2 separate regions of the Homo sapiens genome follow, and region 2 is linked to region 1. The links come from fine-mapping of genetic effects on gene expression. A gene starts in region 1. The other region holds a variant in brackets. All regions are shown on one strand. Distances are from middle to middle. Region 1 holds the start of NEBL (nebulette). Region 2 has its middle 39 kb from the start of NEBL-AS1.

Region 1 (15,832 bases):
CTCATCTCTGTCCTATTGTATTGCTCCAGTGACATAGAACTTTTGGTTCTTTCAACTCTTGTCTCTGGGTCTTTGCAAATGCTCTTTGGATGCCTTATCATCATTTTGACTAATTCCATTTTCAGTATCCTTTTCTAGGGGAGATCTGGTCATTTATTGGTGACATGGTTTGGCTTTGTGTCCCCACCCAAATCTCAGCTCCAATTGTAATCCGTATGTGTTGAGGGAAGGAGGTGATTGGATCATGGGGGCAGTTTCCCACATGCTGCTGTTGTGACAGTGAGTGAGTTCTCATGAGATCTGATGGTTTTATAAGGCAGTTTTCCCTGCTCTTGCTGGCTCTCTCTTGCCTGCCACCATGTAAGAAGTGCCTGCTTTCCCTTCTGCCATGATTGTATGTTTCCTGAGGCCTCCCCAGCCATGCAAAACTGTGAGTCAATTAAACCTCTTTTATTTATAAATTACCCAGTCTCGGGTATGTTTTTATAGCAATGTGAAAATGGGCTAATACACTTGGTTTCTGCTAAATCTTCTTGCTATGGGCTTATATAAATCTCCTATTCCCTTTTAGGAGCACTATATTACACTTTCTCCAAAAAGTGCCAAATCATCTAGTTTTTCATGTGTTTGTGTAAGTTATAGTTCTAATGGTTGTTTGCAATATGCTCTACAACCCCCAAAACCCTTTCCTTTGTTTCCTTGAATGTAAAAACTTCTTCATTATTTCCCCATTTTAATGTGTGATATTTTTCCTCCTAGAAACATGACAAAAACAGCTTTTCTCCATAAATTACTAGGAAACTATTTACATTGCTGTGTTTTCATAAAATTCATAAATCACATAAACAGGACATGTTACGAATTAATTGGTAGATCATCTATCTCTGAATGGGTTAAAGAATTGCCAAGAGTGATCAAGCCTGCTCTCTTTCTGGCTCTTGATACGGTGTTGACAGCCAAGCAAAGAGCTTCTTCAATAAATCCACTCTCATATTCAAGTTTTTCCAGATGTGAGAAGTAATTAAGTCATTGCATTTACTGAAGCCTTTTATGCTTTTCAAGCAAGAACTTGCGGCTGTGGTGAGTTAACTCTGCTTGTTACATGTGTGTGTGTTGCATGTGTGAATGTACATATGTACAAGCACACATGTGACATTTGCCAGTAGTCAAATGAGACCCCACCTGAAAATAAAACAAAACCAAAAGCTGATATCAATAAATGCTAGAAATTTTTACAGCTAAATTTCACAATTGAGAGGTGGGCTTTCTCCAGTAATGCCTTTTTTCTTTCTATTTTTCCTGAATGTTAAAGAAATGAGGGTAATCAAATCACTTGCATCATTAAAGAATTTTTTAAGTGGTAAAGTCATGACTCTCATAAAACATAAACACGTTTCAAAGATTTTTAACTCATTAATAAATGAGGGTACCCATAAGACCTTACAGTTGGTTCAAAGGTGAATCTGAAGAACCACATATAAATGCATAGTAAGGAATGCTGAAATGCATTTACAAATAGGTGCAAAAAGGGTCTGTCTCATGGACAGTACTCAATTGCCTTCCCAAGAACACAGCTACAGTAATGCTCCCTTATCTATGGTTTTCCTTTCTGAGGTTTCAGTTACTAAGGTCTGGAAATAGGTCAGTACAGCAGAAGATACTTTGAGAGAGAAAGAGAACACATGCACATAACTTTTATTATAGCATTTTGTTATAATTATTCTATTTTATTACTAGTTGTTCTCTTGCTATGACATCTTAAAATTTATTTTTATTTCGATGGTTTTTGGGGGTACAAGTGGTTTTTGGTTATATGGATGAATTTTATCATGTTGATGTCTGAGATTTTAGTGCACTTGTCACTTGAGTAGTGTAATTGTTCCCAATCCGTAGATTTTAATCCCTTACCCTTCTCCCTTCTGAGTCTCCATTGGCCGTTACAGTACTCTATGTGCCTTTGCATACCAGTAGCTTAGCTGCCACTTATGAGTGACAGACAACATGCAGTATTTGGTTTTTCATTCCTGAGTTACTTCACTTAGAATAATGGCCTCCATCTCCATCCCAGTTGCTACAAAATACGTTATTTTGTTCTTTTTCTGCCTGAGTTGTATTCCGTGGTGTATGCATACCACATTTTCTTTATCCAGTTATTGGTTGATGTCCAGTGAGTCTGGTTCCGTATCCTTGCCATTGCGAATTGTGCTGTGAGAAACATAACACATGCAGATGTCTTTTTGATATAAGGACTTCTTTTCTTTTGGGTAGATACCCAGTAGTGGGATTGCTGAATCCTATGGTAGCTCTACTTTTAGTTCTTTAAAAAAGCTTCATATTGTCTCCCGTAGAGGTTTTACTCATTTACATTCCCACCAGCAGTGTATAAGTGTTCCCTTTTCACCACATTCACACCAATATCTATTGTTTTTTGACTTTTTAGTAATAGCCATTCTGACCAGGGTAAGGCCGTATCTTATTGTGGTTTTAATTTGCATTTATCTGATGATTAGTGATATTGAGCATTTTTTTCATATGTGAGCCATTTGTATATCTTCTTTTGAGAAATGTCTTTTCATGCCATTACTATCCTAGTTTATAAATTAAACTTTATCATAGGTATGTATGTATAGGAAAAACATAATATGTATAGAGTTTGATACTATCTGCACTTTCAGGCTTCTATTGGGGGGCTTGGAACACATCCTCTATGGATAAGGTCTGGGGGCTACTATAATTTGCATTTCTATGGATAAGAATCATTCTCATTCTTATCAGTTTTCAACAGTTTATGGAATCGTGAAGTAGTTCAAAGATAATGAAAGAACAGTATAGTCCTGAAGGGAACACTCAGTAATTTGTTTTCTATGTGCCCATTTCAAAGTCTTTCACAATTATTCCTGACACATCTCACATAAAACTCTAGGAAAGGGACACTCTGTGGGAGTCAAGCTGTTTGATCCTGCCTGACCCTTTGGTTCTGGGTATAAGCCACATACAGACCAAGAAGAGCTTAGGTTTCTTCCTCTTGGTGGTGAAGATTGCGGGAGTGATCATGGTATTAGCTTAATTGCTATGAAAACTGAACTAATGTCTCAAGCTGTAAATGAAACCGAAGACTTTCAGCTCAATGGGCGCTATGTTAATGTAGACATTGAGAATACTTTCCTGCCCCCTCTATAAGCAGAGTACATCGTTTTAATTTGGGCTTCCCCACCACACCCAACCTGGAAATTGTTGTGCCCCATACTATTTCCAGTTTCTTGTTTTTCACTTCCTCCAACATCCATCTAACTATGTAGCTCTCATTTGTGAGTGGGATCTACATCTGTGAAAAGGGGAATATACATATGGAATATACCTTATTAAATTTTTTTTTTTTTGAGACAGTGTCTTTGCTCTGTTGCCCAGGCTGGAGTGCAGTGGTGCGATCTTGGCTCACTGCAAGCTCTGCCTCCCAGGTTCACGCCATTCTCCTGCCTCAGCCTCCCGAGTAGCTGGGACTACAGGCACCCGCCACCATGCCCAGCTAATTTTTTGTATTTTGTTTAGTAGAGACGGGGTTTCACAGTGTTAGCCAGGATGATCTCGATCTCCTGACCTCATGATCCGCCTGTCTCGGTCTCCCAAAGTGCTGGGATTACAAGCGTGAGCCACCGCGCCCGGCCACCTTATTAAATCTTAATAGCATACTTGGTCATGGTGACACATGTTTAGGTTGCTTTGTGTTCTTTCGATTTCTGATTATTAAAGAGTAATGAAATAGCTATTAAAAAGGAGAAAATATGTTCATGAATTCTAAATTGTAAAAGTTGATTGGACCAATATTAAGCAAAACTCTTCTCTTTTATAAAGGAGACAAATTGTCCTAGAGTGCTTACATTTCTTCTTTCAAGAAATGATTTATCTTGCCTCGTCCATCAGTAAAGTTCTGTTCTGGGAAGATACCAGTTACTGAGTAAATAGGTGAGGCAAAGATGGAATGACTAGGGATTCAACTGAGAAGCAGGAACCTTCCGGAAGACGGTCATCAAAACAAAAACCAGGCAACAAAAAATGAGTGTGAAAAAACCATCATGGCAGGGAAACAAATCAGGCAAACAAATTCTTCTTTCACCTAACCATTTGGAATGAATATTTTATAATAAGAAATGTTGAATTCATTTTTAAAGTTAAAAGAAAAGCAGTTTATCTCTGTACTTTTTTCCCCCCACTCAGAACTGAATTTGGATCTGTTTTAATTGTTTATTATAAATTTTTATTTTTAAATCATGTATCACCATGTTGAGGAAAAGTACATGTTCTATCATTATGAAAAAAAGGAGAAAAAAGTGAAATAAGTGTGAAACAGTCAAAAACCAAGAAAGTCTTGTCATAGGCGACCTCAAGGAAGGTGAAGACAGTTGTGCACTGCACGACTCCAGATGGTGGCACAGATACGTTCCCTTGGCCACGGCTGTGTCTCTGAGACTTGAATTACCCACCTGACAGTTGCTAAGGAAATACATTTGCTTACGTGTAAACATCAAGCTATCAAAAGATCAGAAGACTTCTGAATTATAAATAAGCAAGTGAGCTCTTATCTTTAAGCTGTCTAGTTGCAGAAGGCCCTTCTTGACTTTAAAAGGATATTAATGGCACAGAGAATGAGAAGACCTTTTCATGCCAAATGTTTTTCACATCACTGTGTACCTTTATTGGTGGTTGAAAAAAAGCTTGTGTTTGTGAGGGGCTCCACTATTTTTAAGGTGCTTTTTCTTTTTATTTTTTTTAAGAGGGAGTCTCGCTCTGTCACCCAGGCTGGAGTGCAGTGGCGCGATCTTGGCTCACTGCAACCTCCGCCTCCCGGGTCAAGTGATTCTCCTGCCTCGGCCTCCTGAGTAGCTGAGATTACAGGTGTGTGCCACCATGCCCGGCTAATTTTTTTCTTTTTTCTTTTTTTTTCGGGATGGAGTCTCACTCTGTCACCTAGGCTGGAGTGCAGTGGCAGGATCTTGGCTCACTGCAACCTACGCCTCCCAAGTTCAAGCGATTCTTCTGTCTCAGCCTCCCTAGTAGCTGGGATTACAGGCGTAATCCCATCTACTGCCATCACACTCGGCTAATTTTTTTTTTTTTTTTGTATTTTAGTAGAGATGGGGTTTCACCATGTTGCCTAGGCTGGTCTCGAACTCCTGAGCTCAAGCAATCCACCTGCCTTGGCCTCCCGAAGTGCTAGGATTACAGGCGTGAACCACCGCACCCAGCCCATGCCCGGCTAATTTTTCTATTTTTACTAGAGACGGGGTTTGACCATGTTGGTCAGGCTGGTCTCGAACTCCTGACCTTGTGATCTGCCTGCCTCAGCCTCCCAAAGTGCTGGGATTACAGGCGTGTGCCACTGCGCACCCAGCCAGTGCTTTCTTTTTATTAACTTCTGTCAACTCAGTTTTTCTGTTTAACTATGAAGAATTAGAGGTAGTGAGGGGTTGAATAATTTGCCCTAGAGGACATGGCAGAGCCAGACCTGGACTTTGAGAGTTTAGCCATAAGTGATGTCTCTTGGTCTCATTCTGTATCAAGGCATGCGTAGAGTACTAAAGTAGAAAAGTAAACAACATAAAAGAAGTGCCCAATAAGTAAAAGCTATGAGCAGCTACAGAGATTTTGCCTTTTGGAGCAACCCAAGGTGAAAATATCTATTAAAATACATTAAGCTTGGTTTTTGGAAAAGTCGATAGGGGATTTTGAAACATGATAGCTGTCCATGAGGAACACTTTCTTCATATTCTCCATGTCATATTTTAGAGCTACTGACAAGAAAACTTTGCTGTGATGAAGTGCAGGGCTTAACACTTTTTTAGAGAAAACTTTGCATGAATTTTATATTATAGGTGAGAGGAAAAAAGATGTATTCAATCAAAAGTAATGGTGTCTCTAGCTTGCCAAACGATCCATTAAAGACTTCATCCAGCAAGTGTTGAGTGATGAGTATTTTATTTCCAATTCTATCTTAGTATGAAGAATATTTTATTCACCATTCTATCTCTAACACCAAGCACAGTGCCTGGCATAACAACATTTATTTGTTGAACAAATGAACACAGGTCTCTAGTTAGGTTCTGATCCTAGTGCTTCATTGAATGGCTTTGTAAATGAGACACATAATTTTTCATAGCCTTCATTTTGTCATCTGTGAAAGAGAGGGCTTTAGGTGTATTGATTTCTTAAGGATCCCTTTGGCTTGAAATTCTGATTCTAGAATCTCAAATGGAAAATTTGTGTTCACATTGCACGTGGTGTTTGGTTTTTGTTTTCAAAAGTTTGTGCATTAAATCTCAACAGCTTATTTTCTTGCAGCACAGTGAAGAGTCCCTAAGAACATATTACGTGATGGGAAATGAGAAATAACTGCACTGCAAGCCTGATGAAGGTAATTCACCTTGGGGAATAGGTGTCACCCTGAGTAACACCAGTACTGTCTCCTCAAATATGAGCCAAAAGGTGTGTCTCAGGCAGTTTTGGCAAGATTTTCTCCCTACACTCCTAGAAATTTGCAAGACAAGTTTACAGAAATTACTCCTCCCTATTTCCAAATAAAGATAATGTAATAGATCTATAGAATATTAGAATAGTCTTCTGGCCAGCAGAGGACTTGAGGGAAATAATTGGAATGCACACATTCTTTCCTTTTACGGAACAAATAAAATATACAAGGAATGTCCTTGTGGAATCCACTACACTGGGCCAGCATGATATGGCTGTAATCTTAGAGTTGTGGTTTCCAAGTTCAGCATGCTTGAGGCAATTTCTTTTTGGTATTTTGTTGGTGAACAGGATATGTGATACCATTAATTTAGCCTGTATCAAAAACTAGTTCAAGACCAACAGCTCCTTCTAGAACACAACATTTTAGGAGAATAGAGCAATGTTTCCCTAAGCAGTCGGTCATATTTCACAGAGGAGTGTTAGTTTTCTGGGGTAGTGGGTATGATTAAAAAAAAGATAGGTAGATAGGTAGGTAGGTAGATTAGATTAAATTGGATTAGATTTGATGAGATAAACAGGTTTGTGTTCAGGGGAACACGAGGTTAAGCAAGCCTAAGCAGGTTTTTTGGTTGAAGGTCTTCTCAGAACTTCTAGTATGTCAATATGCCTTGTAGATCTCTAAGTGGCAGGGACAGAGACTGGGGTACAGATTTCCCAAACATATTTGTTTAAGAAACCTGCTTTTTTCCCCCAGAATCTTTTGTGGAACTTTTGCCTCATGGAACACAATTTCAGAAATAATTTATACGTGATGACTGTGTAGAATGTTTTTCTTGTCAGGATTTTCAGTTTAGGTAAGGCCAAGGCATTTTTTTTTTACAGTACATTGAAAACTAGATATGATATCAAGAGAAAAAATTATGCTTGGCTACTTAGAATGACATACTATTTTTAATAAATTTGTATTTTGTATCATCAGTATTACTATTCAGTGTAGGGTATTTTTTATGCCCAATGCTAATGTGCTATGACTTGGTAAAATTAATTTACCCTAGGATTTACATAACCAGATTAATAAATTGTGAGTTGTAGGGAGTCTTGGAATTGCCTGAATTGACATTAAAATATTTGTTTTGAGAAATTTTTTTTTAACCTTGGTTTTACGTAACCAAGGACATACACTACATTATAAATATTGTGATGGTTTATTTTTCCAAACTTTTCTGAATGTGGGGTGCCCATTGAGTAATAATGCAAATCACCAATGACTTTGTAAAAATTGACATGATGAGTAGAACTGCAGAATTCAAAGATGATGATGATGATTTTTGAAACGATGTTTCCAGAATTGTTAAATTATGTATCAACATATGTTAACTGCAACTTCTCATGTTTAATGATGTTTACAATTAATACAATACCATACTCGCCAGTATAATACTAACAGTCATAATTAACTCAGAATAGATTCTTTGAAGTGGTTCAAAGGGCTTTTCATAATAAATAAGTAGCCTCTAATCAGCTAATATAAAGTGGGTATTTTTTAGGATGTGAGAAGTACTGGTATGTCTGATAAAACATATAATTTAGGTTGACAAAATGAGTTTGAATGATCCAGATTCACTACCCCAAGTCAGAAGGAAGTCTGACATTCCAGTGAAAGCTTTATTTAGACAGAGACAAGGAATCTTTGAGATAACAGGCTTTGGACTGTGCTATCTTGAGTGTTAGAGCTGAGTAGTTTTCCCAGAATCTCTAAGTCCTTTTTATGCTCTTTTATGAATGAATAGAATTAGTAAAAGATAAATAAATTTTTTCTTTTGGATTTCTTAACCAGTGGAAAAAATGTTGACTTTAAAAGTTCATAAAATCAAATTTTGCTTAAGAATATGTTATTTCCACTTGTGAGGCCAGCCTGGTAGACCTCTGGGATCCTTTTCTGTTCACTCACACACCACTGAGATAAGGAGTGAAGTGTGGGCTAAATAGGGCTGAGGCTTGGGCAAGGGCATTTCTGCCAGAGCACCAGAGACGTCAGCATCTCAAGGGCACTGTGGTATGGAAAAGGACGCCACATGAGTAAATTTTAAAAATATAAATATTTTAAAGGGTAAAAATGAGGGTCCCTGTATTTGAGGATATAAAAGATGAAACTGAAGAAGAAAAGATAGGGGAAGAAGAAAATGAAGAAGACCAGGTGAGTGAGAAAACACATACTCAGACCAGCGTTTGTTCCTCTAAATTGACAATGAGAAAAATGTTCTTTCTGTTCTTTTCTTTTTTTTCAAATAGGTCTTCTATAAGCCTGTTATTGAAGACTTAAGCATGGAATTGGCCAGAAAATGCACGGAACTCATTAGCGATGTAAGTGGCTGGAGTAATTTTTGTCTTATTTTGCATTGCACCTGTGGTATTATTATGTTATAGAGTCATAGAGCTGTGGGGGAAACCCTGAAATCACCTTTTAAAACACAGTCACTTTCCAGATCATGGAACAAAGTCCTGAAATTTTCAGTGATTTCCCCAAGGTCACCTATACAGAGAATTTCTGCTAGAGCAAGTCTCCTCATTCTTAATCCAGAATCCTGTCCCTTATGAGTTTTGCTGTCACGCTGGCATGAAATCATAAGGCATTGAATTGCAGTATTTATTCCATTTGAGAACCCCCAAAGATTTTAAAATGAATATAATGATGTAATTTGTCTTGGGAGGCCCTCTATCTAAATGAATAGTCATTTTTTTAACATTTTGGGGCCTTCTGAACAATCTAATGAATGGACTTGTCTTCCAGAACAGGAAAATGCATATATATATATATATATATATATATATATATATGCATATAATATTTATTTACAATTCAGGATTTGTTGATTACTGACCTGCTTGCTAAGAACCCTGATATTAGTGCAAGGATATTAGTGCAAGGGGTATTTTTGTTGTGACATTTTTTAGTAACTGGGATTGGTTGATATTACACTTTAAGGGAATCCCAGAATTATTGAATGATTGAACATATAATTTTATGTTAAATATGTAAGCTAGAATTCAAGAAGTACAAGGAAAAATGTTGCTCACCAGGGATGAGAATTTAGATGATCCTCATTAGCGGTTCTAAGAGGATTGCTGGTCCAGAGAAAGGGTAACTCCTGTAAAGTGAATATGTGCCTGTGTCTTCATTTAGAGAGATGAGCACAATACTGGTTGTTTCTGTTGTTGATAATAAGCAAAATGATCAGAATGTTTTGCACGTTTGTTTTCTAACGGAAGTCAGTCCTGGGCAGGAGGGTAGTGGTCTGGCACATCCTCCAAAGTCAACCTGCCTGGGTTGACTCCCCAGTAACCTTGGGAAGGTTATGGAACCTGGCTTGGCTCCATCCCTCAGCTGTAACATTTATAATAAGATTAAATAATGGTAATGCATATAAATGCTGAATAAACTATCTGGAACATTGTGAGTACTCCATAAATGTTAGCTGTTATTAACTACTCTGTCTGTTACTTCCTTTTACATCCATCCAATCACAATTTAGATATGACTGGCTCTTTCTGACAAACCAGAAGGCAAGCACAAAGGATGCTGGTGGAAATCATACCCTTTCCCATATACTTGACATGTGATGTAATTACCCTTTAAATTAAGTATTTCTTTGTGCTATTACTTAATAGTCATTAGCTATTGTATGTGAAAGTTCTCTGTAAATTGCAGTAATAATAAGTGACAATGACAACAACAACAACAATAACACTATTGGCAACAGTTAAGATTTAGTGACTATTGTGTGCCAGGGATTGCAGCTTGCGAGGTAGGCGCTAGGCTTTTTCTCATTTCTGAAGCGAGGAGATAGAGGCACAGAGAGGTTCAGTACCTTGCCTGGGTCACACAGTTAAGCAGAGGCAGTAATAGTTGAACACAGAGGCCTCCCTCTTTACACTGCCAAGTTATCTCTCCCTGTAGATTTCCATGAAATGTTGTTCTTCGCCTTATTATTATTATGTTACTATTATTAGTAGTAATGCTACCAACTAAAACCCTGAGTTCCTAACCTCTTCCAGCTTTGATATATTTTTATTGAAGTGCAATTATAGCTGAGCTAACTTGTGTTACATAAACCATCAGGACTAAAGTGGTAACTGTAGTTAGTAGGTGATTTGGTTGGAGTTGTTTTGGATAAGATTGTCTATCAGTGACTTTAAAACCAACATGTTGTGAGGGGTGGTGGCCTTTATCATTATGCAAAAGCTAAATCCATACATTTCACACCCACGTAGGTAAAATGAAACAGATAGGCATACTTTCTGTTTATTACAGATTTTTGTGGCATGGTAGAATGTACTACTTAAATTTAGGACATGATTATTCTGCCTTAATTTTTTTTTTTTTTTTTTTTTTTAGACAGAGTCTCGCTCTATCACCCAGGCTGGAGGGCAGTGGCACGATCTCGGCTCACTGCAAGCTCCGCCTCCTGGGTTCACGCCATTCTCCTGCCTCAGCCACCCGAGTAGCCGGGACCACAGGCGCCTGCCACTAAGCCCGGCTAATTTTTTTGTATTTTTTTTTTTTTTTTTTTAGTAGAGACGGGGTTTCACCGTGTTAGTTAGGATGGACTCGATCTCCAGACCTCGTGATCTGCCCGCCTCGGCCTCCCAAAGTGCTGGGATTACAGGCGTGAGCCACCATGCCCGGCCTATTCTGGCTTAATTTATATCTGTATACACATTCACATTTTGCTTCCGAATAGAATTCTATACTTGCTAAGATACTTATTTAATTTTTAGATTTTTTTCCTTTTTCTCTTCTTTTCTTTCTTCCTTTTTTTCCTTCCTTCCTTCTTCTTTTTTATTTTTCTGGACAGAGTCTCACTCTGTTGCCCAGGCTGGAGTTCTGTCATGTGACTGCAGCTCACTGCAGTCTCAATTTCCTGGGCTCAAGTGATTCTCCAGCCTTAGCCTTCCAAGTGGCTAGGACTACAGGTGTGTGCTACCATGCCTGGCTAATTTTCATTTTCTTTTTCGTAGAGATGGAGTCTCACTATGTTGCCCAGGCTGGTCTCAAGCTCTTGGCTTTAAGTGATTCTCCTGCATCGTTCTCCCAGAGTGCTGGGATTACAGGTGTGAGCCACCGGGCTGGCCCTGCTTCGTTTCTGTAGATGAGAGGGATGGTTTCATGGACTTCTCTTCATGGTGCAGCCTAATTGTTACTCTTTGGACTTCTTCCAGCTTTCATATATCCTTAATAACCAATATGTAATAATCAGAACTGTGCAGAGTGGTACAGATGTGGACGGTCTAGATCACGTGTAGAGCAGGATGATGTTTTGCTTAGCTTCTAGCACCCTTTATGATGCTATGAAGAGTTTCTTAGACTTGGGAGCTGCAGAAAGCTGTTAGATCAGCTTGATAATCTGTAGACCATCAGAGCCATTTCATTCCTAATTTCTGACCTGTAGCTGATAGCTTAGGACCCATCATCTTTAAATAATAGTTTGAATTATTTTAACCACACTAGGGCTAGATCTAATCTGTAGTTTTCTGCCCTCTTGCCTGGCCCTTTGAGAACTTCTGAAGTTCATCTCAGTTTGCCGTTTCCCTTACTGAGACAGCTTGGAGTCAGCAGACCTGTAGACACTGCTATATCATCCCCTTGTCAGACAATTTTATAGAAATGTTAAGCAAGATTGGCCTAGAGATCAGCCCTAGGAAGCCTGCACTGCTTAGAATTCTCCATAGAGAGAAATGTCCGTTTTTCAGGTCAAGTGGCTTCACTTTGGGCATCAGTATAAGGCATTTTTCTTTCTTTCTCTTTCTCCCCCCACCTAGTTTCTGCTTTGCACTTGCTCTACCCACATTATGGGGTTCCTCTTTGCACAACTCACTTCCCAGTCTTGAAGAACAGCTGGTCTTCTGAGGCAGCCTCTTTTATTTTTCTGTTAATCACATAATACTATTATTTTCTCAGATATATTTTCACAGATATTCTCTCTGTCATATTTATTCCTGTTAGTCTAACCTAACATTATCTAATCAATCCCTTGAATAAGTTAAACCTATCCTCTCTATTGAGCATTCAGAATCCTGGATCTAGTAGTCTTCTGATGGGGAGTCATAAAAAAGATTGGGCAAAAGGGAATCTTTTGTATGTTTCTTGTAGATTAGGCAGAAAGAGCCTTCTGCAGAGCAGGTGGACCACATCTGCATGCAGCCTCTCAGTGTTTAGTTCAAGGCTGTTTAGGGTGTTCATCTGCATGGCAGCAGGAAGAATATTTTCCAGGCAAATGAACGTTGTTGTGGGTAAATCCTTTCAATGCCAAAAACATTAAATTCTGTGGTTACTCCTCCAGAGAAAGCTTAGATGGTATCAGAAAACCTGGGAGAGTGATCTTAGCTATGTCCAGCCCAGTTAAATAATGATGGAGCCATTGTTTTTCCTTCCAGGGTGTATTGAATTTAACTTGTATGATTTCACTTGTGAAGAGCCTTTCCAGATACTTTCAGTTAAGAATTCTTGTGAAAGGAAAGATCCGCAAACATCTCCATGTCTGTCATCCGATTTCAGCCTTTAGCTAATCTCATACTCATTCAAACAAACTTGGCCAGGAGGAGGAAGCGACCCTGCACTAAATTCATCCTAATTGTAATGGAGACGTGGGATTTGTGGGTGAGGGCAAAAGAGAAGGTCAATGTTTGGGACATCTTAATGATCATAAAGTCATCAATTTTGCCCTTTTTGTCTTTTGGTGTTGGGTTGTGTATTCGGTAGGAGTGCAGATGACTGTAAAAACAGGAAAACTCTAACACAATGGCTTAACAAGTAGGTTTTTGTTTCCCCAGCCTCCACATATAAAGCCCGGAGGTAGGTAGTTCAGGCTGGGTACTATGGGTGTTATCAGTCTCCCAGGCTCCTTTCCTTCTATTCTGTCGTCATTAGTATGGTGGCTTATTCCTTGGTAATGACATCATTGCTGCTGCCTTCCCTTTGATTGAGAAAGAAAAATGTGGAAGACAGAATGTCACAGGGTTGTGCAGCATCTCTCCCTTTGTACCAGAAACACTAGAAGCACTTCTGGGAAGATTTCCACTAAAGTCACAGAGAGTGTGGCTCCCCAGGCCAAACACTGGATGGCATGACCATGCCTGGTTTAGATCAGCTTGTCCTCTGGGGCTGGGCAGGAGCCTGGCTGCTCTCATTAATCCATCTGGGCTCTTTTAATAGGAGATAATGGGAGTGGCCAGTCTATCCAATAGATGGTGTCAACCCGAAATTGTAAGATGTAGACATGGCTGTAATAAAATATAGCAATCTATTCAGTGATTTTTATTTTACCTAAGATTTGTTTCATTGACCAATATAGTTCCCTTTCAATGATCATTTCCTGTTATCTTGGTGTAGGAAGGCTACTAATATGTATCTAATATTTATATAAATATTCCTTATGTATTTAAAAATCTAACATTCTTTGCTTATTGTCATTCATATTGCACAATTCACTTGAAATCACACATGATTGTGTGTGACTTCTAACAAATTGTACAATTTCTCTTGAATTGTACAATTGTAAAGGATCTTAAATTTTAAATACACCTTCATTTAAAATATACAAATATGTGTATCTTTTTAATAAAGACCCAAGAAAAAAAAATAGAGTCTACAATTAAGACTGAGCTATTTGTCTGCCTAACAGAAGAAGTAAATACCTCACCCTTATCCAGTCCTCCTGTCCTGAACGTTCTGCATGTGTCAGACTTTATCAGGAGGCTGTAGCCACAAGCACATACCACTGCAGTGAAGAATGTGAATGTGATGGGGAATAGATGGTGGCAAAAGATAAAAATAATGAGTCAAACTTAAGCCTAATGATAGGCTATTTTCTCTCACACTTAATTATATAACGGAGATACTTTTTTCTCCATATGATCAAAATAGCCTACTATTTATCATACTGCCATTAACAGTTTAATTACTAGTGGCTGAGGAGGGTGATTTGCAGGAACCTAAAATTATGGCTAATCTCTGAGAAGAAAAAAAAGTAATTTAGTGCTCAGATAAGATAAATATGTTCTCGTGTTGATTTCATGAATAAAGCAAATGTTTAATGTGGTAGGCATCTGATATCCAAGAGTCACAGCAGTGAAATATGGGATTTTGAAATAACTTCACTTAATCTGTATCTAGTTCTACCACAGGTTAAGTAATGCCCGTCAAATCAGGCTTGCATATGGGAAAATCTCCATGTACCATTAGTGTATAACATCAATATTATTCACATCCTCTAAGAACCAGGTAGTATATACAATTCAGCTCCACTTTTGGGTTATAATTAGGGAGAACATATAATTTATCATCTGAAACAGGAACACTTTTTCAGTTTAAGTATTTATGGTCTTGGGAGGATAAACACGAGCATATTACAGAGTGATACAACTTTTAGCAAATTACCTGCATCTTCTCAATGAGTCATAGTTTTGCCTTCCCAGTTTCCAGATTGTGCAGCAATTAGTGTGACAGTGTGATTATACTTTAGGTCCTTCTCCACATTTCCTGACTTCTTTTGGGCTCAAATATCCACCCGGGTCTTCCCCCGGCATAACAATTCTGGCCTATCCCCAAAGGGGAAGAGAGTGAGTCATTTGACTTGTGAGTTGCAGAGAAGAGATGAGCAGGTTTAGCTAAGCCTCACTGGGCTTTGTCTTGCTGATCTCCAGCAAGAAGGCCTTCTGGAATGATCTCCACCACATAGCAAGCTTTCTGGGCAGGTTCAGTTCTTCTCTGCGCTCAGGAGGAGGATTGGGAAGCCTATGGGTGCTCATAAATTGGGAGGAATTAGTAACAGGAAGCCCACGTTGGCCACAATTTAAGCCTCTTCCTCTAATCAAGCATGTCTAGGTAATAACGGTAATAGTGATCCCCATTTAATTTCGCCTCTACTTCTTAATTGGTCACATCTGTCATGCTGACTACTTATTTTCTACCTTGAGGTAGGCAGCTGTGTTTCTGTTTGGCCAAAGGCTTATGTGTCAAGGCTTAAAAGCAACAAAACACCAGGACACTTGTAGGAGCGAGATGGCACATGCTTGCTAATTGCACTGGGCTGGCTGGGTAAACAGGACCCATCACCCGTAGCCAGCACGCCTGGTGTTGATGCTTAACTGGACCCTCGCTTATCTAAAGAATGGTCTTTCCTCACTATGCCTCATCATCTTTGCAATCCTGTGCTGGATAGCCGTTTATTTAACTTGGCTTGTTTTGAGGTCCCTTTCACACTTGAGTATTTACTTCAGTAAATGGACTTTATCAACCTAATTATCATTCAAAAAAGGCCATTAGAATTGTTTTTCTTTTTCTCTTCTTATGTAAATCATTCTCTTT
Region 2 (15,832 bases), 310 kb before region 1:
CTTCACTCTGTTGATTGTTTCCTTTGCTGTGCAGAACCTTTTTAGTTTGATGCAATCCCATTTGCCTATTTTTGCTTTTGTTGCCTCTGCTTTTGGGGTAACATCCAGAAAATCATTGTCCAGATCAATGTCATGGAGCTTTTCCCCTAAGTTTTCTTCTAGTAGCATTATAGTGTCTGATCTTACATTTAAGCCCTTAATTAATTTTGAGTTGATTTTTGTATATGGTGGGAGATAAAAGTCCAATTTCACTCTTCTGCATGTGGATATCTAGTTTCCTTAACACCATTTATTGTCAAGATTGTCCTTTCCCTATTGTATGTTCTTGGTACTTTTGTCAAAGATCAATTGATCATAATAGTGTGGATTTATCTGTGAGCTCTCTGCTCTGTTACATTGGTCTATATGTCTGTTTTTATGCCAGATGCAAGCTGTTAGAACTAATAAATGAATTCAGTAAAGTTGCAGGATACAAAATCAACATACAAAAATCACGCCGGGCATGGTGGCTCATGCCTGTAATCCCAGCACTTCGGGAGGCCAAGATGGGCGGATCACTTGAGGTCAGGAGTTCGAGACCAGCCTGGCCAACATGGTGAAATCCTGCCTCTACTAAAAATACAAAAATTAGCCAGGCATGGTGGTGGGTGCCTGTAATCCCAGCTACTTGGGAGGCTGAGGTAGGAGAATTGCTTGAACTGGGAGGTGGAGGTTGCAGTGAGCCGAGATCGTCCCATGGTACTCCAGCCTGGGCAACAAAGCAATACTCTGTCTAAACAAACAAACAAACAAAAATTAATAGCATTTGTATACACTAACAATGAACTTTCCAAAAAAAAAAAAAAACCCAAGAAAATAATCTCATTTACAATAGCACAAAAAATTGAGGAATAAATTAAACCAAGGTGAAACATCTGTACACTGGAAACTGTAAAATATTGATAAAGGTAGTTGAAGAGAACACAAATAAGTGAAAAAACATCCTATGTTCATGAATTGGCAGAATTAATATTGTCAAAATACATATACTACTCAAATCGATCTATAGATTCAATGCAATCTCTATCAAAATTCTGATAGCATTAGAAAAAAACAGTCCTAGAATTCATATGAAACCATAAAAGACCAGGAATAGTCAAAGCAGTCTTGGGCTACAGGCATCACACTACTTCATTTCAAAATGTTCCACAAAGTTATAGTAATCAAAACAGCATGCTACTGGAGTAAAAATATCAGTTGTTTTTTAAATGCCAAAATGAGCTTATTTGAGGAAAAAAATGGTAATAGAGTCTAGGAGTACAGACACATTTACATTTGCTTCAATACTCTTGAATGTCAATAGGTTGGTTTTAGCCTCCGAAATATACATTTTAGTAGCAGAAATTCTAGGCTTTAAGTCAGTCCTGACTACTTTGTAATTTATATAGCCCTCACTTATAAAAAATACATTTTTAATTTCATTTATTACTTATAATTAATACCTTTTCTCACTTTATTCCTAAACCAAATACACATCAAACACACACCCAACTCACATTTTTAGAAAGTTTTCATTTATAACAAATCAAAGGCTGATGTCTTGGCCTGACCACATGCTCCTGCAGGGGATTGGGGTATGCCATCCCAAAATATGCCACTGTGGCATGAGGATTATTTTGAGCTGAAGGCAATGAGAATCAAATAGGAAGCATTCTCTTCTCTCCTCTTTTCTGCCTAAAAGCAGGGCATAAGGTTCCGTCTGTGAAGGTTTCCCCTGTCCTGTACCAGGAAGAGGAGAGCAAATGTACCAGGAAGTTGGAGGGTCAGCAAAATGAATGTGCATAAACAGATTTTACGAAAATAACCCTTATCTCCCGTTAGCTTTCTCCATATAGTTCCTACTCACTTTGCTGCAATTTATTTTCCCTTGAAGCCCAAACCCTTTTTCCTTTGTTACAATGGCATGTGTCCCCAAGTCTGATCACTTCCTTGGGTTCTCCTTCTTTTCTGTGACCTCCCAGTGCATGTAGATATCGATAAATTGTGTATTCCATTTCTCCTGTTTAATCTGTCTTTTATCAGTTAAATGTGAAGGACCCAAGTCATGGAACTTTTGTGTTCCATGGGCAGAGGAAAAGTTTTTCCTCCTCAACACTCCTGCATTTTTTCCTCTTTTAAATAATTTATTTTACATCTATTATACCACACAGCATGTCTGATATATAACTCCTTTATAAGATAAAGCAAAGATAAAAAAATTTTATCTTATGAGAAAGAAGACACACCATCACATAGAGTCTTCAAATATCATTGCATTGTAACTTTTGTAATCTGACAGTCATGAAACTATCTGTAGAATGGTTTAAACAGGCAAATTAAAGAACACTATCAAGCAGACCTGAACTGTCCTAAATTGTTAGGTATGCATTTTGCAAACATTACTTTTATCGATGGTAACGGTGGGGCTGGGGAGTGTTGTGTCTTTTCCCACCTGCCTGGTGACGATCGCCACAGGATGTTGGGATGAGTGGCCCTTTCCAGGGCCAAGGCTCTTGCGCCTACAGATAGCAGCCCATATCTGTCCCTGTACTTGTGGCCTGGCTTGGTGATTGCCTGGGTGTCAGGATTTCTTCCGGTAGCTTTATGAAAAGTATCCATGAGGCCAAAGAATTTGTATGTGGAATATTCGTACACTAGCTCACCGACCAGGTCAGAACTCAAGACTCTCAGAGCCCCAAATGATGTCCAGCTTGTCCCTCCGCAGCAGACTGAAAGCTTGTAACAAACTTTAGCTGGCTAGTACTGTGATGGACAGGCTTGCTGTAGGTTGCACCCTTAGAGTAAGTCGCCATCTTAGCTGACTTGTTGGTTGCTGCCAGATGGAAATGCACAAATTGCAGATGAGGTTTGAATCATCTTTGTGCCAAGCCAAAATAAATGGAAAATACAGCTTTATAATAATGACTACTATTTGATGAAAATTTCATTTGTGGCAGAATTGTCACAAATACCATGAATCTTCAAGTAATACTATAGAGTAAATATTGTTAAACCCATTTGCAGGTGAGAAGACCAAGATTCCAAGCAGCGAAGTATCTTATCTAGGGTCATATAGCTAGTAACTAGCAGAGCCTGGATTTGAATCCACAGTTGTGTGGCACCCAAAGCCTACACTTTTTTTTCTCAACAGCAGATGCTATCAATGTTAAAGTTTTCAAATTATTGGAAGCCAGTCGTATTTAGAACTTGCTGGCCACCTGGCAATATTTGGGAGAGCTGTTCACCACCTTTAAATAAATAAATAGCTGCTGCTCCCCACTCCGAAACAAACCAGATAGAGTTTCCCCTGTGAGAAGCAGCTCCTTGGCAAGTCTATGCCTGTAATTTGGAGCACTGTCCCTTGTGACTTGGGCTCATGATTGTTTTGCTTTCTCTGTCTCTGGCTGTGGCTCAATTTGGAGGAAACTTCTGGATTCCTCTCCATGACCTCTTAAGTAAATTCTGTATACTTAACCTGATAACTACCCTCTCATCTGTTTTAGATTTTGGGGGGATGCCAGCTTCTCTGGGTGCTGCTGAAGAAGTCTTCCCCAACAACTGTGCGTGCAGAGGTGGACTTACCTTGAAGCTAACGACACTCACATCAGGTCCCCTCAGTGCAGAGCCCCTTCCCAGGGGTATTGTGTTCCTATGGTAGTAGTTTAGTAAAATTAGCAAAAGTATGATTTTTTTTTTTCTTCGAGACTGAGTCTTGCTCTGTCTCCCAGGCTGGAGTGCAGTGGCGCGATCTTGGCTCACTGCAACCTCCACCTTCTGGGTTCAAGCGATTCTCCTGCCTCAGCCTCCCAAGTAGCTGGGATTACAGGCACGTGCCACCACACCCGGCTAATTTTTGTATATTTAGTAGTGATGGGTTTTCGTGTTTCTTTTCTTTTTTCTTTTTCTTTTTTTTTTTTCGAGATGGAGTCTTGCTTTGTTGCCCAGCCTAGAGTGCAGTGGTGCGATCTCGGCTCACCACAACCTCCATCTCCTGGGTTCAAGCAATTCTTCTGCCTCAGCCTCCCAAGAAGCTGGGTCTACAGGTGTGTGCCACCATGCCCAGCTAATTTTTGTGTCTTTAGTAGAGACAGGGTTTCACTGTGTTGGCCAGGCTGGTATCGAACTCCTGACCTCATGATCCGCCTACCTTGCCCTCCCAAAGTGCTAGGATTACAGGCTTGAACCACTGCGCCTGGCCCAAGAGATGGGTTTTCATCATGTTGGCCAGGCTGGTCTTGAACTCCGGACCTCGTGATCTTCCCGCCTGGGCCTCCCAAAGTGCTGGGATTACAGGCATGAGATACTGCACCCGGCCAAAAAGTGTGATCTTTTAATTGCAGCTGGTTAGGACCACTGTGTCTTCCCCTTTTGACTTCTCCTTGTCTTAATTCTCCTTGAGTTGGGTGGCATTGAAGTAGCCACAGGCACTTGGATATGTGGCTAAGGGGAAGTCAGGTTGGGGGTGTATATTTAGTGAGAGTTTAGTGGGATGTGTTCTGGTGGTTCAGAGTCACTCTGTAGACAACTCGTGGCTGGCTTTCCCACGTAGGATGGGTTTCAGCAGTACCCTACTGCATACCGTGGCAACTTGACTGGAATTATGAATGACGGCCTAGAATCAGGGGCGGAACTGTGATGTGAACCTGTCTTAGGATACTGACCCTGCTGGGAAGTAGGAAGTGAAGGAGGAACAAGTAGAGCTGGAAACTAGTTTGGGAGGGCAGGTGCGGTGGCTCACGCCTATAATTCCAGCACTTTGGGAGGCTGAGACAGGAAGATCACTTGAGCCCAGGAGTTTAAGACCAGCCTGAGCAACATGGCAAGACCCTGTCTCTATAAATAACCAAATCAAAAACAAAAACTGGTCAAGCATGGTGGCACATGCCTATGGTCCCATTTACTCAAGAGGCTGAGGTGGAAGGATCAACTGAGCCTGGGAGGTTGAGGCTGCAGTGAGCTGTGATTGTGCTACTGCGTTCCAGACTGGATGACAGAGTAAGACCCTGTCTCAAAAACAAAAACAAAACAAAACAAAACAAAAAAAACTAGTCTGTGGAAAATATTATGGTAGTGGGTCAGCCAGTTAATAAACAGATTATATTTTTTTCTTTGCCTTTTGTGGCACTTGCAGTATTTGTTAGTTTTAAAAGATATGTTATTTGTTGTGAAATCTTTTCTCATTCTGAATATTTACTTTTGTGCTACATTTTGCATTCATGAGTTTGTATTGTTTTGCTTAATTTGCTCCCTGAATACAGATGCTACAGAGAATCCTCCCAAATGTGAGTTTTATGAGCACCATGAAATGCCCATAATAAGACAGCCCATTGCAAACACATATTCTTCATTTGTGCAGATCTTTTAAAAACTCTTTTTAAAAGAGATAGGCTCTTGCCCTGTCACCTAGGCTGAAGTACAGTGGCGTGATCATAGCTCACTGCAGCCTCAAACTCCTGGCCTCAAGAAATCCTCCTGCCCTACCTCCTGAGTAGCTGGGACTGCAGGTGCGTGCCACCACATGCCACTAATTTGTGCAAATCTAACCAAATTGTATGTTAGGTAAGAAGACAGAAACTAAAAGTTCATTTTAGTTATTTCGCTCTAATCTTCAAGTTTTGTGGATTTAAAACTCTGGCCAAGTGGAAGTTGACATCTCTTCATGGGGTCGGAGGGATCAGGGTGGGGTGAGGCAGGTGGCACAGGGAGGGCTTCACAGTTTATTGCTCCTCCCCGGCAGGGAAAAGGGAGCTAGATTCCAGGAGATGGGGGCAGAGAGACACAGCAGGGCCTGTCCTTTAATTTATTTCCTATTCTTTTCTAAAAGAACACAGGATATTCTCTTTAAAGACACTAATATTAGGAGTGTAGCCAAAAATACTGACAATGATTAATTCTGGGAGCTTCAATTAAAAGTGATTTCCATTTTTTCCCTTTTTACATACTATATATTTTCTGACTTTTCTGTAAATACCATGAATTAGCAGTTAAAAAAGAAGCACCTGAAAAACCCTTTCCTCACTGTACCCAACAATCTTGCATGTGTGCATGTGTGTGTAATGTGCATATGTGTGCATGTGTGTGCATGTGTATATGTGTGTGTAATGTGCATGTGTGCGTGTGTGTAATGTGTGCACATGTGTGTGCATGTGTGTATGTGTGTGTAATGTGCATGTGTGCATGTGTGTGCATGTGTGTAATGTGCGCGTGTGTGTGCATGTGTGTGCCATGTGTGTGCCATGTGTGTATGGGGTAGTTATACTGAGGAGATCCTTTTCCTTTCTTCTCTTCTTGTTTCTTTCCTTCCTCCCTCTCTTCCTTTTTCCCTTAGCACAAATGCATAAAGGCTTACTAGTGTCTTAATAAATCTTCAGAAAGTACAAAGAATGCTTTATTTGATACCACTAAAAATAAGTGCAAGATACAAATTTTTAATTTGAAAAAACATAAGATAGAAAGCACTTTTCTTTGCCTTTTGTGTGTGTGCATGATATACATATATGATATATATACATCTATATCATATACTTATACATATATATTATATACATATATATACATGAAATTCATGAGTAAATTACCAATTCATTGTTGAGAATTGAAGAAGACTAAGACAGAAGTTAAGATTTAATTATCTGTCTGTATTATCATCATTCAAGACACAAAACTGCTGAGTTTTATAATTGTGGGGAAAATCTATTGTCTGTGACAACTCCCTTTACCAGCCGATACTTACATAAAAGTCCAGGAGACACAGTTTATTGCTTTTAAGGAAGACCTTGTCCTTTCCCTCGCAAATGATGTGTGGTGTCTCGAGCTTGTTGGACTTCCTCTGGGCACAGAACATGGAAGATGAGCAGGTATATAATGTGTAGATATTCGTTGGTCCTTTTAAGAGAGGAATATTTGCAGTAAAAATAGAATAATTTATTTAAGATATAAACTCCACTTACATTATAGCTAAAGGCTGCTATAGAACCCATTTCTAAGGTTTTTCTCTATTTACTCTACTCCTCAAGCCCAGGTCGCCCCAGGCCTTCTCCTGCCCTGGTTCCCTGCCTCGGGACATTCTCATTGCTAAGTCCTGAGAGCATCTTCATGAATGCCTCATTAACACTTCCTGGCTATTCATTAGCAAAGTTAGTGTCTTCTCCTGGTTACTTAAAAATCTCTTGGTCAGCCCTGTAACTTGCACACAAGGAGGCATTCAGACAGTGTTGTTTTGAAAGTGCATTTTATAGACACTGTTCTTTAGACTGAAGCTTCCCCCGTCCTCCGCTCCTCTCCGGTTTTCCTCCGCCTGCACTCAACCAGCTCTACATCTCCATCTGTTTTGAATCTTCTCTAATGTCCTTTCTCTGGGCACAGGAACCCAGACACTCTACATTCTGATTTTTTAAAGGGAGTCAAATCAGTCTGCAACAAGACCAAATACAAGTTCAAGGAAACTGAACCATCAACTGAAATTTGCCTGTCAAGCTTATCTTTTTCTGCATTCTTTGAGTATTAGTGAGTAAACAGAAATGGCATAATAAACTATCATTTCAATCCAACTTTGGGCAACCATCAGCTTGAAGGGCTTGGGTTATTGTGAGATAAAGTGAGATGAGACATGGCTAAATTCCAACCGGTGCCTGGCACATGGTGAGCACTCCGATATTAATTCATTGCCTTCGTTTTGTCACGGTGGTCTGGTTACATTTGTAGCTGCTACCGTGTAGCTCTGCACCATGAAGAATCACTAAGAACTTAATGAGCTGTATTTTCTCCAAAGCCATAGGCTTTGTCAACACAATGCTAAACATTGTGACAATTTTTGACTGAATCGAGTTAACTGACTGAATGTTTTGAAGTATTGACACAGCAGCTAAAGGAGTGAGAACGGTAGTCAAGCCAGCTATTTCCTATGATGAAAAGTGGCAAGTATTTCAAAAATAAAACTAGTGTCGAAACACGAGAAGCCAGTGGAAGTCGCAAGTGGCCACAGGGCCTTTGGAAAGCACTCACTGAAGGACCTGGCTCAGGAGCCAGGTGTGGTAACAAAAATCTGAAGATGTCCCTGGTCATCCAACAAGCTAAGCAAAGCTGAAGAACCGGGTGATTCCACCCCTTTCACCGAAGCTTCTGTAATTTACTTCCTTAACAGAAAATGGGAAGTTTCACAAACTCTTGAGAAATGACGAGTGTTGGTTTATTCCTTCCATCTTTTCAGCCGTTGCTTGCCTTTCCTTCTTTCCTCCCATCACTCTGAGGAGGGGTAGGCGCTGTCCAGACGTTAGCGCTGGGTGTTCGAAATCTTTGCAAGG[A/G]AAGTTGGGGCCAGGATTGCACTAATTGGGAAATCTTTGTTTGTCAGTTTAATTTTCAGTGAATTTCCTGAAAGATTAAAAAGATTGTGTTGTACATTACAGATATATATACATTTACAAGTTGTTATATATGTATATTATATGTAACATAATAAATCATATATTTGTATTATCTTTCTGACATATTATACATATATTGTACACAGTATTATATGTAGTATATATAGTGTTGTCACTCAGATGTAGCGATAATACTGTATATATACTGTATCTAACATAGTATATATTATATGTATACTGTGTAATAGTTGTATAATATGTAATAATAATATATGCATAACATTTACATATGTACATATGTTTATAGATATATATATCTGAAGAGAGAGAGAGAATTGAGTGATTTAAAACCCTGAAATGTATTTACTAGCATTACATAAGAGCAAACACACTTGATAGTAACTTGGTAGGTCATTTATGAAAGATTTCTGACCTCAGCATGAGTGAGAAATTCTGTGCTTCTCCAATTACCATTGGAGAATGAATGAAGCCATGACGACAGATCCGTTTCCATCATCACAATCACTGCTGGTTTGAGGATCCTTCCCCAACAAAAGGATCTCCCTTGGCAATGGCCAACTTCATTGACACAACAAACATTTGTCACAACAAAATTTTACCTTTACAAAAGGACTCAGACGGGTTTTTGAAGTTGACGTAACTGGGTTTGGCATCTCTGTTCAAGAGGAGATGGCAGCTCATTGGCTTTCCTCATCAGGGAAGCAAGATCTTTAAAGGGGCCAGTCTTTTCTCCAGTTAACTGGAGAGAGGGTTTTTGACTGCACACATCAGCTAACTCAGGAGAAAAAAAACCTTAGGGTTTTGTTTTGTTTTTTGTTTGTTTGTTTTTCTTTTGTGATAGAGTCTCACTCTGTTGCCCAGACTGGCAAGGTCACAGCTCACTGTAGCCTCCACCTCCCAAGTTCAAGCGATCCTCCCACCTCAGCCTCCCTAGTAGCTGGGACTACAGGTGTGCACCACCACACCCAGCTAATTTTTCTTATTTTTTTGTAGAAACGCGGTCTTCCTATGTTGCCCAGGCTAGTCTCAAGCTCCTGTTCTCAAGTGATCTTCCAGCCTCAGCCTCCCAAAGTGCTGGGATTACAGGCATGAGCTGTTGCACTCGGCCAATGACTATTTTTGATTGTTTTCATGCCAGGATTTTCCTTTCCTTTCCTACATAGCATTGATAAGGATGATCAAATCGAGACTTAGTCTATCTCCTCTTTCTGCGAGTGGCCTTTATTCCTACTGAATCTGTGACATGTTGCCCATGTCAAAGAAAACGTGACTGAGGATATGGATCATGGTTTTCTGTTTTTGGGTCATAATATTTTACAGTGTTTCCAAAGAACCTAGAGGGCATGCATGAAACAATAGGTGCAACCCAGCTAAAATTAACTCCTACTGGCTAGGATAGCTGTAAATGTAAAGCTACAGGTTTTTTAAAGACTTACAGTAGCTCATACATAGCGTGTACATTTATAAGCATTATTGAGTTGGAAGATAATGACAGTCACATGTTGAGAATAGAATATGATATCTTAACGTATGTTCCTCCTCTCTGTGAGTCTCAGGAGTCCAATTATTGAAACTTAAAAATGCAGCACTTTAGTGCATGACTCCAGAACCAGTGGGAATAAGTAACAACAAAAATTTTAATCTATTTACAGGCCTTACAAGATACATAGAATGATATGGAAAAAACATACTTGACACAAACATTTAATTGTATGATTTTGCTTTGAATTTTTGTTTGTAAAAATATACATATTCCTCCTTAAAAATGGCAGCAATGTTATATTGCCTAATGTTAATTTTCTTTCTGCATATTTGTATAATGAGATAAATGTCAAATCTGTTAGAAGTATATGTATTGGACTGGAGAGTTTGGTTTTCTTAGTTAGGATGTTTTTCTTTCTTTCTTTTTTTTGAGACAGAATTTTGCTTGTCACCCAGGCTGGAGTGCAGTGGTGCAGTCTCGGCTTACTGCAACTTCCGTCTCTCAGGTTCAAGTGATTCACCTGCCTCAGCCTCACTAGTAGCTGGGATTACAGGCGCCTGCCACCACACCCAGCTAAGTTTTTTGTATTTTTGGTAGAGACAGGGTTTCACCATGTTGTCCAGGCTGGTCTCAAATTCCTGACCTCAGGTGATCTGCCTGTCTTGGCCTCCCAAAGTGCTGGGATTAGAGGTGTGAGCCACCATGCCCTGCCCATGATGTTTTTCCTACAAGGAACAGAAACCTTGCTTCAAATGATCTTAAACAATAAGGACATTTTGAGGCTCGTGGAACTGGAGGTATTGAGCAATTGGGGCTTTAGGGTCAGCTTAACCAAATGGGTCTGGTTTTGGGGAAATTCTATCAGCTGTATCCTCTTTTTGGTCTTGGTTTAATTCTAAGGTCCCTCATCCTGACAAGCGTGACACCAGTTCCTGGCTCCACAAGGATAATCGTGGAGTGCAAGGAAAGACAGTGTCAGCCTGGATAGCCTTCCCCAGCAGGGCAACAATCCCTTCTGGACCCAGGCACTGATTATCTTTCTGTTTCTCCATCTTTGACGTGTAGGCCTCTGTTCTCATGTTTGTTACCTCGTGATCTCAAGATGGCTCCTGGTCCTCCAGGAGTCACAACTGTGGTAAAAAAAAGAAAAAAAAAAAAAAGAAAAAAAAAAAAGGTCAGGTGCCTAATTGTATCAGGAGATAGGAGAAACTTCCTGGAAGACACATCCTGCAGACTTCTGCTTATGTGCTATTGGCACGTATTGGGTCCTGTGGTCACTGGGACATATACTTCCAGCTGCCTACCTGAAGTCCATTTTCCTCTCTTTCTTTTCAACAGAATCTTGACTTTTTTCAGAGGGGCAATGTATCCATGAAAAAATACACATCTCCCGAGGCTAGACTTTCCAGATTTAGCAAAAACAAACAAAAAACAGGATACCCAGCATGGGACATACATACTTATACTAAAAATTATTTGTTGTTTATCTGAAATTCAAATTTAACCGAACGTCCTGTGTTTTATCTGGCAACCCTTCCCTAGGTTTTCTTAAGGCAGTGTAGTCATGAAAGAGACCATCCTATGAGAGGGGGGCTTCCAGAAAAGTCTTTTTAAAAAGCGACTAAACTTGTCAGACACATTCCTTTTGTCATTTGCACTTTGCCCTTTCACCTTTCCCCTGCCTGGAATTTGGGCAGAATACCTGGCACCATCTTGCAACTGGGAGACAGAATTCATACTTTAAGGATTGCAGAGAAAGAAGGGAGGAGAAGCCGGATTCCTTAAACATCTCTGAGTTACCTACTCCCAGATTCCTTGCTGTATAAAAACAAACAAAGGGCACCCTTATTTGGCCGAGTCACCATAGTTCAGTTCCTATCACATGCTACCAGGAGCAGTCTTGACTTATCTAGCTACTCCTTGCTGGAAGGGTGAGGTGCAGACTGGCTGGTTGTTTACCAAACTGTTCTGTTTTCTTTTTCCCTGCCATGCTGTTGGACTACGTTTTCCCAGGCCCCTGCAGTTAAGTGGGGTTGTAGGGCTGAGTTCCAGCCCATGGAATGTGGGTGGAAGGAATGTATGTGACTTCCAGGCCTGCTCCTTGCTCGTGCTCTCCCCACCTGCAGCAAGAACAGGGGCCATAGGGAATAGTGGAGACATTGGAAGAAAGCAGCCTGGGTTCATGGTGACTTCTGGAAGTAGATCCCTCTCATTTCATGCTGACCCTCACTGTTCTGTAACATGAGCAAGAAATAAACTTCCCTTGTGTCAGCCACTGAAACTGTCCCTATAAACTTTATAAAATTAATTAGAGAAGGAGGGAGGGAGAGAAACAAAAATAAACCAAGTTTTAGCATATTCAGCATTAATCATGAGGTCAGCCTGCTGTCTGACCTCTTCCTTGTAGTTGTTCAGTACCTATTGCCTCAGAATTGCTAGAACCTGTTACAAGATTATAGTTCCCTTAACTGCCCTAAAGACAACAACTTGCACATTATGAGACATTAATTTTTCCTTTTGAGATACTCTTTCAGGTCCTGCATACTAGTGAAACTAGACGTTAGCTGGTCTGAAGGACCCCCATGAGCTGAGTCATCAAAGAATGCAATTTCTATGTCCTGATGATTTCATCCATCTTACCTTGACCAATCAATGACCCCAATTTCCTAGCCCTTTATCCTCCACAATCTTCTTAAAAACCCCAGCCTAGAACTCCTCAGGGAAATGGATTTGAGGTTTTCCTCTCATATCCTCACTTGGCACCCTGTGATCATTAAACTCTTTCTCTGCTGCAAACTCTGCTGTCTCAGTGTAGTTGGTTTGTTACTGTGCAGTGGACATATGAACCTGTTGGTCCTGTGACACCACTGAGACGCTGGATTCTTTGGGATCAACTAATTCAACAGTATCTGTCATAAGAGAGACTGCTTCGGGCCTACGTTCCAAGTTAAGAATCCTGAGATTCACCCCATTGGACCCTGTATCTTCTGTCCACTTTTTAAATGAATGGTTTCTAGAACCTAGAGACAGATGTTCCATAGGTATAGCTAGTCTGTGGGTAGAGGGCTGCTTTTCCAGTGCTAGGACCTTAGGCTGAGAGATGCAACCAGTCTGTAAGGAGGGAGCCAGGGAAAGAACTACCCTGGATTTACCCTTCCCCTGCTCCATGATCTCCTGCAGGGGCTCCCATTGGCCAAACCCAACCAGAAGCTCAAGGTCATGAGAGCCCATGATGTAGTCCAGCAGGGTCAGGCTTCTAGGGCAAAGTAGGGTGGAGAAAGGAGGGGACAACAGGCTGTGTGTGTGTGCACAGTCAATACAAAAACCAAATCTGGGTTTTGTTAGGATGTTGGAAAGGGGACAATGATGCCATCTTTATAGAGTTAATAAGAATTCTGGGCAGAAATATTGTTATAATTAAGCATTAATCAGGCTGTACTTTGACTCACTTCCTTATGACTGAAAGTCACATAGTACTAGATATAGACCATTCACATCCCCATCATTCCTATAGATAGGATGTCTGACATTAGAATTATATGGCTTTTGGCTGGGCGTGGTGGCTTACGTCTGTAATCCCAGCACTTTGGGAGGCCAAGGCAGGTGAATCACCTGAGGTCAGAAGTTTGAGACCAGCATGGCCAACATGGTGAAACCCCATCTCTACTACAAATACAAAAATTAGCCAGGCGTGGTAGTGGGTGTGTGTAATCCCAGCTACTGAGGAGGCTGAGGCAGAAGAATTAGTTGAACCTGGGAGGCAGAGGTTGCAGTAAGCCGAGCCTGCACCACTGCACTCTAGCCTGGGCTATAGAGCAAGACTCTGTCTAAAAAAAAAAAAAAAAAAAAAAAAGAAAGAAAAAGAAAATGATAATATGGCTTTTGCTTAAGATAGGATCCCCAACATTGGAATTGTAAGGCTTTTATTTAAGAATTACTTAGTTATGTTTTTTTCTGGTCCTGAATTCCAGTGAAACAGCTGATGACAACCAGCTGGAAAATCCCCACAGAGGAATGGGATTGGCGTGGGAATACAGCTTCTTCATCTCCCTGTCCCACGACTTCTTCTGGCACTCTTCTACCAGTCAACGATCTCTATACTTCAGCCCACTCCCAAACTCTCGAAAACCCTAGCCTCAAACTCCTTGGTGAGATAGATTTGAGGTTCCTCCTGTCTCCTCATTCAGTGGCCCTACTACAAAACTTTTTCTCTGCTGCAACCCAGTGTCTAGGTATGTTGACTTCCCATAAGCAATGGGCAGGCAATGAACCTATTACAGTTACAGTAAGGGAGGGTGAGGAGCAATCCACAGTTTCTACCCCCCTGGTTAGATCTCAGCCCCTGGGGGCTAAATTCATGGCTACAACTTATTTTTGAGATAAAAATATTTTGGCCATGTGACAAGCATGTAAAAGGAACGACTTCTGAATTTTCACTAGCACATGTTAAATTCCAAGTTCTGTAAGATGTTGAGTAACTTATTTATCAAAGCATTAGAGTTGCCAGGACAAAATAACTTATTTTAGTAGTATTCAATGTATACATTTGCTTTAATTCTTCTGCCAGAGCTCCTTACTTAATTCTGTCTCCTTAGGATTTAAAAGTGTTCCTGCTAACAGCGATTAGGATATTAGCAAGATGCATTGCGTTACTAATATTTTATATAATCCAATGATCATTTTATTGGCCAGGACTTTTTGGTCTCTTGTAATTGGTTTTATTCCAGAACATCCTGATGAAGCTGATGCTGAAGACAATCTTAGGTTTGTACTTTTAGTACTGAGTGAATTCCCATATTAATTGGCACCTGATGACTAATGGTTCATGCATAATCTTAACGATATTTTTGTGCCTGCTGATACTAATCATAGCAGTCCTACTGATGCATTGTGAAATTATATGCTAAATTGTTTTGGAGATTATCATATATCTTATTCTATGGAGGCTTTCCTTAGCTGCATGTTTATGAAATTTTTAGTGACAATCACACTTTCCTACCTATCCCTGTGAATGAGGTAGAATAGGTATTATTATTATTATGTAAAAATTTGGTTAGTATCTAATACTTATTATAGAGCAATCATAAATATACCTAAATATAAGGTGAAAATAAAAATCACCTTTGTTCTACTACCCAAATTTAGCTTTGATTAATAGGTTGGTGCCAAAGTAATTGTGTTTTTTTCCATAATATATTGGTATATATTCTTTCAGAATTTTGTCCAAGATGTAATAAGTTTTCTTCTTACAAAAATGGGATCTATATTGTTCTGTAATTTGTTTTTTTGCTTACATCATGAGTATTTTTTCATATTAAAAATATACTTCTGCAATGTCACTTTTAATAGCTGCAAAGTATTCCACTAAAGATACACTGTAATTTGTTTAAATATTCTCTTGATTTTGGACATTTGATTTCTTATTTTTGACATTATATACATTGCCCTAAATATCATTATGTGTTCATCACAATACACATTCATTCAGCTCTTGTCCAATTATTTTAGGACAAATTAGCTAGAAATAGAACTGCTGGACTACATGGTAAACAAAATGTTAAGGCTTTTGCTACACATTTGGGGCAGATATTGTAATCTTACTTTGTAAATAGTATCCCTTCAGGGTCATGTACCAATTTGCCTTGTTTCAGTCATGAATTAGACACCTTTATTGTTGTAATATTGGGTTGGAAGATGCAGATAACACTGATAAATTCTTGTTTTCATGCCTAGATGCAACTTGGAGTGCACAGTGAGCATTCTTAGTTGCAAACAACAGAAATGGACTCTGACTGATTGAAGCAGGAAAGTAGTTTATGAAATAGTAGCTCTTTGAATCCTTGGAGGGCAGGACCCTGGTGCAAGGCTAGGCAGCCAGGAAAAGGGATGAAAATGATGCAGCAGAAAAAAACCACGTCTGCTGCCCCAGAATGCTAAATGTCATGGT

What was found.
Region 2: its variant is fine-mapped to the expression of NEBL in monocytes (TOPMed, PIP above 0.99).

What each region holds. Positions count from the first base shown.
Region 1 is chr10:20,889,955-20,905,786 of GRCh38, reverse strand. NEBL (nebulette) reads left to right here and starts at 8,476. Exons shown (of 28, transcript NM_006393.3): 1 at 8,476-8,662; 2 at 8,758-8,829. The coding sequence starts at 8,582.
Region 2 is chr10:21,204,875-21,220,706 of GRCh38, reverse strand. It overlaps a transcript of NEBL not described here. Among named protein-coding and RNA genes, the nearest start is that of NEBL-AS1, 39 kb to the right of the region's middle. The variant A/G (reference allele first, on the strand shown) is at 8,322.